2 separate regions of the Homo sapiens genome follow, and region 1 is linked to region 2. Evidence: fine-mapped expression QTL. A gene starts in region 2. The other region holds a variant in brackets. All regions are shown on one strand. Distances are between the middles of the regions.

The links.
Region 1: its variant is fine-mapped to the expression of ADGRG1 in whole blood (TOPMed, PIP above 0.99).

What each region holds. Positions count from the first base shown.
Region 1 is chr16:57,604,939-57,609,938 of GRCh38, forward strand. It overlaps LOC105371291 (a long non-coding RNA gene), which reads right to left and starts at 2,084. Exons shown (of 4, transcript XR_933627.4): 1 at 1,790-2,084. It also overlaps the pseudogene HMGB3P32. RefSeq lists an enhancer at 4,909-5,000. The variant T/G (reference allele first, on the strand shown) is at 2,048.
Region 2 is chr16:57,625,588-57,631,108 of GRCh38, forward strand. ADGRG1 (adhesion G protein-coupled receptor G1) reads left to right here and starts at 3,043. Exons shown (of 14, transcript NM_201525.4): 1 at 3,043-3,215. RefSeq lists enhancers at 2,224-2,879, 2,880-3,535, 5,504-5,521 and a silencer at 3,085-3,154.

The DNA of each region.
Region 1 (5,000 bases), 21 kb before region 2:
CAGAGTGAGACTCCGTCTCAAAACAAAACAAAACAAAACAAAACAAACAAAGAAACCATGTTTCTGGCATTTTTATAATTTGTAAGATGGTGTTAACTATATGGTTATTGGCTAGAAATCCTGAGTTATCAACTGTATATGTCCATAGTTTGTAAAAAGAATAAAACAACTGAGGCAAGCTCTTGATGCTTCTTGTCTGGCATTGAGGCTGTGGGGAAGGTGCCTTTTGGAGGGGCCATAGCTGAGGGCATGCACCGTGACGCTGGACCGGTTCACTGTGCAGTGGGCATTCATTTAGCTTCAAGTTGTCTTGTTTCTGTATGTGGTGACAGCTTTCTGCTGCCATTCTTAGCTAAAGGCAAAGATGGGGGGGTCAGCTGGCATGAGAAGTGTTTAGTTTTTGTTTTGTTTTTTAGTTAAGTGTGGTGGTTTTTAAACTGTAGAACTCTTCATTGTCACTAAAGCAAAGAGTCACTGCAATGAAAATTCAGGAACCTTCTGTCCTTAAACACGATTTGCAACATTCTGTTATTTTTTTTGTATGTTTAGAATGCTGAAATGTTTTTGAAGTTAAATAAACAGTATTACTTTTTTTTAAGTTGGATAAAGGATATAAACATTTGTTTCACAGGAGAAGAAAGAAAAATGGATGATGAAGTTATGAAAAGATGCTCGGTTCCACTCAGAATTACAATAGGCACACTAAAACAATTTTTTGCCCATCTAGAGAGATCACCTCCACATTGGAATGGATATGGTGGGACTCTAAATTGGTACTACTTTTTAAGGGGGCAATTTAGCAGTGTCTATACCTTTTTTTTTTTTTTTTTGACAGGGTCTTGCTCTGTCACCCAGGCTGAAATGCAGTGGTGCCATCATGCTCACTGCAGCCTTGACCTCCCCGGCTCAAGTATCTGTACAATTTTTAATTGCACAATTCTATAACCTAGTAATCCCTCTTTTAGGTATCTTTCCTTTAGAAATAGCCACACATGTGCCAAAATATATATGTTAATTACTGCAAAGTGTATTACACTAAAAAATAGGACCCCTTAATTTCCTTCAATAGAGGGTTATGGCTAAATAATTTTACATTCTATGCAATGGAATTCTTGTACTAATGAAAAAGAATGAGATGGAACTATACATTCTAAGCAGAAATGATATCCATTATAACTTGGCAAGAGAAAGAAAAGCGAGTTGCAAACACTGTGTATAGCATACTAATTCTATTTTTGTAAAACAATTGCATATATGAGTTACAGGGATATATAATAATCATGTCTCACAATTACTGAATGTTTACTGTGTAAACCAGGAGCATTGAATTATTATTACTCCCATTCTACATATGAGAAAACAGGAACAGAGTGGTTAAGTAATTTGCCCAAGGCGGCACAGCTGGTAAGTTACAGAGCAAGGATTTGAACTCTGGCAGCCCAACTCCACAGTCTGAGCACTTAACCCTATACATGGCCTTATAGGCCAAAAATACTTCTGTTAACAGGGATGACCTGGAAAATCAAGAGTGGAGGGGCAGAGTCACTTTTTAATAAATACTTCTAAATAGACATTAAAAAACACGAACTGGTAAAAAGGACTTATAGTGAAAAGCCCATTTCCTGCAAGCCCCCTCCCCAGAGGCAACCACTTCTAATAGTTCGAGCTCATGTGGCAGTTACCTCCAGAGCCATAAATAACATGCTTCTACTGCCATTTCCTGATTTATTAACCTTGGACATTATCTGTTGACTTCTGCAAACACTCAGAAAAGGAAAAATCAGCTTACCTTTTTTCTCCTTTCTTCTTGTTATGTTGCTTCTTGATAACAGGGCTGTTTGCTGCCACTGGCTCTGGTCTAGACCCTGGGCTGGACACTCGACTGCACAGTTGCCAAGACTAGGCCCACTGAGGTTCAAGACAAAAAAAGGACTTGCCCAAAGTCACTGTGAGTTGGTGTTGGAGGTGGCACCCGGCTCCTGGTCTGCATGGCTCCAGGGCCGGGCTGTCTCTGTGATACCCTTTGGCCCACCCTGAGAGTGACTCT[T/G]GTGCCACCCCTGGCCCACGCGGGCCTCTCTCACTCTGGCAGAGGCTTAGCATGGCTGGGGTGGGTGGCCCTGGCTGGGTTCCTGCTGAGGGCTGGCTGAGGCCTCCTGCTCAGGCAGGGGCAGGCATATTTGCAGAGCAGCAGGTGCAGCCTCCCAGTGTTTGGCCAGCCAAGGGTTTTATTCTCCAACACTGCCAGACCTAGACTTTGACCCTCAGGGACTTCTACACAGCTGGCCTTCCAGATCACTGCCCCCATAGCCTCTATATCTCCAGGGGAAAGGCTGAGCCAGTGGCTGAGACTGGCAAAGTGCCGAGCACCAGATACCCAGGACCCTTAGGGCGAAACCACCAGACTCACATGCCCCAACCCTGCAGTCGCCTGGGGCCATCGGGCGGGTGTGGGGGTGGGGGTGTATAGGGGTAGAAGGAGCTTTAAAAAATTACCAGTGCTGGCCAGGCATGGTGGCTCATGCCTGTTATCCCAGCACTTTGGGAGGAATAGGCGGGCGGATCACTTCAGGTCAGGAGTTTGAGACCAGCATGGTCAACATGGTGAAACCCTGTCTCTACTGAAAATACAAAAATTAGCCAGGCGTGGTGGCGCATGCCTGTAATCCCAGCTACTCGGGAAGCTGAGGCAGGAGAATCACTGGAACTTGGGAAGCGGAGGTTGCAGTGAGCTGAGATGGCACCATTGCGCTCCAGCCTGGGTGACAGAGCGAGACTCCATCTCAAAAAAAAAAAAGGATGTCCTGAAGGCCTCTTCAGCCCAGAGAGACATGGGCTTGCGGGCTGGGGGCAGACAACAAAGAAACACGGGGTTGGGGTGCAAGCCTGGGACTTGTAGGGGCCCCTAGCAGTGAAGAAAGGCTTTGCCTAGCACACGGTGGCCCCTGAGAGGATGCGGGTGGCACCGTCCCCACCCTTGTAGTCCCTTTTCCCAGACATGAGCTCCTGGCAGCTTTATTTGGGGTAGAAGAAGGGTCCTATTTATGCTGTGTCTGCATTTAGAGAGGCTGTTCACTCATTAAGTTACAGACTCTCCACCTTTCTGAACCTTGGTCTCCCCATCTGTAAAATAGGTATATGGTCAGGAATGGGGGTGGGAATTGAGGATTGTGGGAGCCTTCTGGCTTTAAAATTATGAGCCCTGAGGAAGATCCCTGAAAGAGCCTGTGCTAGGTAGGTTATGACTTTGGCTGCTGTAACAAACTCAAGAGTAAGAACCCATATAAACAAGAAGCCGTTTACTTCCATCCCATGCGAGGGACCAGGCTGCACGGTGGCTGTGGTGGCTCCTGGACTTTGGGCACTCATACCCCTTCCCTTTTTGCTCCTCCAAAAGGGTGCACCTCTTTTTTTTTTTTTAAGAGCATGATGCAAGATTTGCAGACTTTACTGATGGCTGCATCCTATTGTTCAGAACTTGGTCATGTGGCCACCCAGTTCCAAGGAATGTTAGGTAATAATGTCTTTATTGTAGGGGGCCATGAACCCAGCGAAAATATGGGGTTCTATTGGTATAGAAAGGGGAGGTGGATATTGAGGAACACTTACAGCTTCTGACATGGAATCTAGAGGTTGCTTGCTGGAGGCCCCGAGGGTGAGATCTAGCCTTAGATAGGCTTTGTTTGGCTTATGACAGGCTTTAAATCCATTTGAATTCATCCCCAACTTATAACAATTAAGATTTTCACATTAATTTCAAATTTCTGGCTTCCTTGAAAAAACTGAAGGATCAGGCCACATGGGGCTCATATTTCCTCAAGTGACAGTTCACTGGAGCTGGGCAGTGCTCCCCAGCGTGGCCCATACTCTCCAGTTCACCCCAGGTCCCCCCACTCCCTATTGTCTCCCACCCTGCCCCCTTCCTGCTCTCATTAGCTTTGCAGCCTGGCCGCTGTGGGCACTGTAGTTTGTGACTCTTGGCCCAGCATAGCCACCAGCTTCTATAAACAAGGAAATTGAGGCACAGAGAAAAAAAGAGACTTGCCCAAGGTCACCCGGTGAGCCTGGACAGAGCTGGGACTGCAGCTGCCGCCTGCACACTCAGCCTCAGCGTATTTTCTGCCGCACTGGTCACTTGAGGATCACCTGGGTGCCCATGTACTCAGGAGAAAGGATGGCCCAATGGTTAAGCCATTAGGTGCTGGAATCTGATGGGTCTGGGTTTGAATTTTGGCTCTGTCACTTTTCAGGGCAAGTAACATCAGCTCTCTGAGCCTTATTCTTTTTCTTTTTTTCTTCCTTTCTTTTTTTTTTTTTTTTCCTTTTTTGGACAACGAAATGGGATAATAATAGAGATTGCCTAATAGAATCACATGAAGATTAAAGTGAGGTGCAGGGCCATTGGCACTGACGGTGGGCACCTCCTTAAATGTTACACCCTAAGTATTTTGCTCATTCCAGCCTGCACAAGAAATCCTAATTCCTGGGACAGGAATTCAGAGACAAGTGGAAAAGCAGAGGGCTTTATCCCCATGCAACTGGGGGATGTGGCTGACCCTTCTGTGCGATGCAGCTCGGTTTCCTCCCTGTGGGGCCACAGCAGCCCCAAATTGCTGAGATCAGTCTGCATGGCAAATAGAATCTGTGTCAAGCTGCAGAGGTGGACCTGAGCCATTCTGTGTCGGGCTGTGCCGGAAACAAAAACACCTTCTCTGTCTTAGGAGCTGCGCCCACCTGCCCTCTCTTTCTTCAGCAGCCAGAGCTGCCTGCTCGGGTGTTAGTTCTGGCATGACTTGGCGTAACCTCAGGGAGGCACCACTGCGTCTCCTGTCAGCTCTTCTAAAGCTATGCCTCCGAGTATGGCGTGCTTTGGGGCCAGCTGTGACAGCTGGGGAGCAGCCCTATGCACCCCCACTACAGTCCAACATTTGGTTTCAGATTCTATTTATATACATTATGTACCTAGATACTTGTGGGTTTGATTTGGTTTTGTTTTGATTGCA
Region 2 (5,521 bases):
CTGGCGTCTAGACCAGGGCTTCTCACACCTCCAATTCTGGAATCCCCTGGGCATCTTATTAAAATACACATTCAGATTCAGCAGGTCTCAGGCTATCTGTAGGTCTGAAGACCACATTTTGAGGGCTAATCAGGCCTCTCCCTACCCAAACATCTTCTCTGGCTCCCCAGTACCTTTGATTTAAGCCCAAACTCTACACTTTCAAAATCTTCCAGAATCTGCCCCTTGCTGCCCAGTTAGATCCCACTTCCTTCCAAGCATGGCTCCATGCCCTACCTCTCCACCTCAGCCAATGCTGTTCCCTCTGCCTGGGGTGCCCTTCCTGCTGGTCTCTGTTTATCGAAGCCCCCTTCTTCTCCTTCAGGTCCCAGCAGGGGCTCTGGGGTCTACACGCTTAGTTCAGATCCTGGCTGTTATAGAAAGGCGTGGGTAGCCCTCCCTGTACCTCGGTTCCCCTTCTGTAAAGTGGGGATAGACTGTTGTGAGAACAGAAGGAGAAGATGAAGTGCCTAGCAGGGGCCGGATATCTGGTGTCCCGTGTTTGGTTACAGCCCACACACCTGGAGGCCCAGCCAGGTCCAAGCTGTGCGACCTTGGCTAAGTTACTTCATGTCTCTGACCATCTCTAACATACAAGTGGTACCCAACCCACAGGGTTGTGTGGATAAAATGAGAATGATCTGTACAAGCAGAGCATCTTACACCATAAAACCTCCAGACATAGCAGGTGATTATTAGTCCTGTTATCAGCACTCATAACAGATAGTGTTGTGTTTAACAAGTCATTGAATTTCTCCCCCTTTACTCCCAGAGACCCCTGGATGCTGAATACCAACTCCAGGTATCGCTACTATGAGAACCAGGCTTGTCTCTCTAGCCAGACTCAGAGCTGGGGGCCTGCTTCCTCACCTGCCTGCCCCTAGCTCATAGTAGGTCTCTGCAAAGTCCGACGGTGAGAGAGGCAGGCAGAGCTGGGCAGCCAACTCCGCCCAGCCAGGCAGCCCCATAAGCCTCTCCTATGTGGCCAGAGTGGCAGCTGGCTCCGCACTCTCTTCAGCCATCTGCAGAGAGAGTGGTGCCTTCAACTCTCCATCTGTGCCCTTCTGGTCAGCACGCTCTGTGGGGTGTGTGTGTGGTGGTGGTGGTGGGGGGACAGCTGCCCTGTGGGCCTGGTCCCTGGGGAACAGCTGAGGCTGCCCGGGTTACCAGTTGATCAGGCCCTGAAGGACTGACCTTGGGGAAACTGAGGCAGAGGTGGTGGTATGTCAGGGACAACCCATCCTCCCCTAGATAACTCACTTGTCCTCCCTTGTTAGTGGGCCCCCAGTGTAGGCTGGCCTCTGCTGCTTTGGCAATAAGGGAGTTCCCACTGCAGCCCCGGGAGAGAGCAGAGGGTATGACATGGGCCCAGTCCCCACTGTGCCTCCCTGCCCCAGGTATTGGCCCACAGCCTGGACTGGGGACTGTGAATGTGGGAAGCACAGTGCCGTTTTCTGGAAGCTCTCACCTTATGGCCTCCCTGCACCCCACGGGGTGGCTTTGTGGCCCTTCCTTTCTGCAGCTTGATTTCAAGCAGGTAGGTGAGGAGTGCAGTTCACCTGCAGCAGCCCTGGCTCCTAGGCTGCCCGAGACGTTCCATTCATTCTTCCTCCACGTGGCATGGGGAAGCTTTTCCTGGCCCCCTTGTTTAGAAGGCAGATCTCTACCGGAGAGAAGGAATCTCAAGTTCCCCAAGCATCCACGTGTCCAGGCCCCAGGCTGAGGCCTGGGGTGCTGGATTGCTGAGTGGTTAGGAGACCCGCTATGGAGCCAGACGGCCTGTGCTCCCGCCATCCCAACTCGGGCACCTCCCTGCTGTGTGATCTTGGGCAGGTTAATTCTCATCTCTGAGCTACATGTATCTGCCTTAAGCTCCCTCTTCTTCATCACCACATTCACAGGGAGTATTTATTGAGGGCTTGGCAAGTACCAGGCACTGGTCTGAGTAGCAGGTTTGACTTCTCTCCACTGCCAGGGGCGCTCTGGAGCTGGAATGCAGACGGTGGTCAGCGAGTGTAATTACTGTTATTGTCACCACTCACCCTTCTGGCATTGTAAAAGCCTCCCAGCACATCTGACTGAGGAATCATCTATCCTCATTGCTCGGAGGAGGAGGGCAGACAGGAGCCTCTGCAGGGAGTGTGAGTTATCCAAAGCCTCCTGACTCGAGAAGGGCACTGAACCCCAGCAGCGGGAGGTGCTGCTGACAGAGGAATGACCAGAAGGGGGATGGGGCATGGTCCATTTCCACACTTCTCTGTCTGAGCTTTTGGGGCCACTGGGAATGGCTCTTCACCCAGGCCTCGGTTTCCCCTTTGGCTCAGCAGATGGATTAAAGGAGGCCGTTTCCAGAAGCCCCTGGGGTCTCAGAATCCAAAATGACTTGGGATGTTGAAACTGTGGGTGCTTGAGGAGCACTGAGAGGGGAGACGGGTCACCCCCCGGGGGGACGCAGGTCAGCCGGTCAGTCGTGCGTGGCCTGGCTGGCCTCCTGCCCGGCTGCCTGTCACCCGCTCCCTCCCGACTGCCTTCCGCTCTGCCGGTCAGCACTGGCTCCCGTCGGCTGCCAAGGAGGCTGGACTCTCCTTCAGGAAAGGGCAGTTGTCGCCCTGACCTGGGGGGTGGGCGGACAGCATCCAAGGGCCCTGTTGCCGTGGCAACCCCGGCCTCTCTGTGGGAACTTTGGGGAGACTGGCCCTGGGAGGCGACAGATGGAGGCTGAGGAAGCAGAGTGATCCCCGGCCCCTTCCTGTCCCTGAACACTGTCTGCCTGGATGAGGGGTGAGGCTGAGGTGCCCCCTTGCCCGGCGCTGAGTCATGGGCATCCCCCAGGATCACTGCCTCAGCGCTCTCAGCCCTGCCCCCTCCTGGTCTCCCTCTGAGAAATCCATGACTCACATATATCGTCCGTCATCCCCAGTCAAGCTCAGGGAGGAGGGAGGAGCCCAGCTGGGGCAGGAGAGGGGTGTCTCCCCACCAAACAAACCCGGTCCCTCCCTCTCCGCACTAGCTGTCTGCCCTGCCCTGCCGTAGGAGATGGGCTGGGAGCCTCCCACGCTCTCCAGCTCACTCGGCAGGCAGCGGGGACCAGGGCTGGCAGGTTAAGCCTCTGGGGGTGGATCCTGAAAGGTGGTCCAGCCGCCTGGCCCTGCGTGGGACCCTCCACCTGGCAGCAGGTACCCAAACAAGGGCTGGACAGCAGGTGGGAAGGGGAATAGTGTGAGTGTGAGAGTGTGAGTGTGTGAGCGTGAGTGTGTGAGAGTGTGAGTGTGTGAGTGTGAGTGTGTGAGAGTGAGTGTGAGTGTGAGTGTGAGCGTGAGAGTGTGAGAGTGTGTGAGTGTGAGTGTGTGAGAGTGAGTGAGAATGTGAGTGTGAGTGTGAGAGTGTGACTGAGCGTTTGAGTGTGAGAGTGTGAGTGAGTGTGTGTGAGTATGAGTGTGAGTGTGAGTGTGGGAGTGTATGTGAGTGTAAGTGTGGATGTGTGCATCCGTGCACGGGTGGCTGTTGGACAGTGGGTAGGGATGGTGGTGAAATGGGGAAATGGGGGGGTCTTGGTATCTTGGTGGGATCTAGTCCAGGTCAGCATGGCTGTGGGTGGGTCTCTAGAGTGGGGGCGGACCCACAAGGAGATGCCTGGGAGGGGACTGGGGCCCAAGGGGAGCGACACCTCCCGGGGCTCCCAGGCATTTTGTTGCTGGAGAAACTGAGGCTCAGAGTGGTACAGTCACTGGGCCCAGCAAGCTGGGGTCTGCTCTTTAGGCTGTGAGATCAGTGCTCCTACTACACAGATGGGAGAACCGAGGCTCTGGGAGGGCAGGTGGCTTGCCCAAGGTCACCTAGCACATCCAGGTATAGAAAGCCAGGGGCCAGGCTCAGGGAGGGGGTGGCACTTGAGGGAACTCCTGAGGACAGCTTTCCTGCAGCTGTCCCTGGGGCTGGGTCCGGGGTCCCCACTGAGCAAGGGACAGCCGTGCTCTTCATCACCAAGGCCAGCTTTGGGAGAAGGTGGCCCCGCAGGGTCTCTGAACGTGGGCCACGTGGGTGAGAGTCCTGGAACCGGTGACAGGCAGACGGGGAAGCGCAGGCTGCGGGCTGAACACCCTGCCCGTTGCCACCAGACCTCAGGGCTCCATCTGCCTGGCACTGATAGGACTTCCCACCCTGGTCCCCGCGGGGGCTGGGAGTGTGTAGGAAACCAATGATTCCTGTCCTCCCCCGTCCCCAACCCACCTCCCCTGCGTGGTAGAGTTGGGGTCTCCCTGTGCCCCACTGGGAGAGGTCTGATGTTCATTTTACTGCGTAGGGAGGAGGGGATGGGTCAAGGCAGGGGCCTCCCACCCCCACCAATGTGGAGCAGTTGTAGCCTGGGGTCCACGGGCTGTGTAGGAATAGCCTTTGTTGCTCCTTCAGTGGACCAAGAAAGTTATTTATAGAAGCATTTATTGAGCGCTTACTGTGCACTCTGTGCTCTGTCGGGAACATGGCCGTGGGTGAGGCAAATAAGGTATCTCAGAACTCGTGAGTGGCCCAGACCCAGAGCCAAGCCCCCTGCCCCTCCCAGAGGATAGCCCCGGGCAGCCTGTTGGCTCCTTGGGGTCAGAGACTGTGTGAGAAGGAGCATATCTGGGCATTAATAACCATGGGCTGCCAAGTTGGCTCCCCAGAGCCCAGGCAGGGGTCCTGTTGGGCTCTTTCCTGCCAATGTCCAGGTGTGGAATGAGCTCTTAGGGCCAGACCTGACCCCTTCTTTGCTGCAGGGACCCGAGATATGCACCCACCTTGGTCACAGCATCACTGTGGCCCCCTTGCCCTTCCTCTCCTCTCGCCTCAGGAGCTCAGCTGCTAAATGGGTGTGTAGGGGTGATCACAGCTGCCCTGGCTCCCGTAGGCCTGGGGCTTGGCTCCGAGAGTGTCGGGTGATGGAGAACGCCGCTCCAGGTGTGATCTGTGACGGACAGGCTGTGTCCCGGCCTGGGCCACTGGGCAAGGGCCAGTCAGCCTGGTGTGACACTTCCTTTTGTCAGGGATACAAACAAACAAACAACAGTTAGGAGGTGAGATGGAGGCGTGAGATAAGCTTGCTAACAGAGGGCCCAGAGAAGGGGAAGAGGACCAGGGAGCCTCTGCGGAAGGCACTTAGGCTGGGCTTGGGAGAAGGTGGGAGGGGAAGGGACTGATGTCTGTATGAGCACTGTAGGGGGAGTCCTAGTGGAGGAAACTACTTAGGAAAACATTTGGGGAACGATACAAGCTGGGGACCACGGGGAGGGTGATACCGGACCCCTGGCATGGGTCATTTCATGGGACTTGATGAGCCAGGCCAGCAGGTCTCAATCTGCTCTGTGGGGGGGAAGAGAGGCAGGAGGACTCGCCAGGCAGGTGCTGTGTGGGGCTGGGGGCCCAGGCTGCAAACCCAGCAGGACGGGGAGGGCCAGGATGGGTGTTCAGTGTGAGGTTGGCCAGGCAGTCCCAGTCTCTGGCT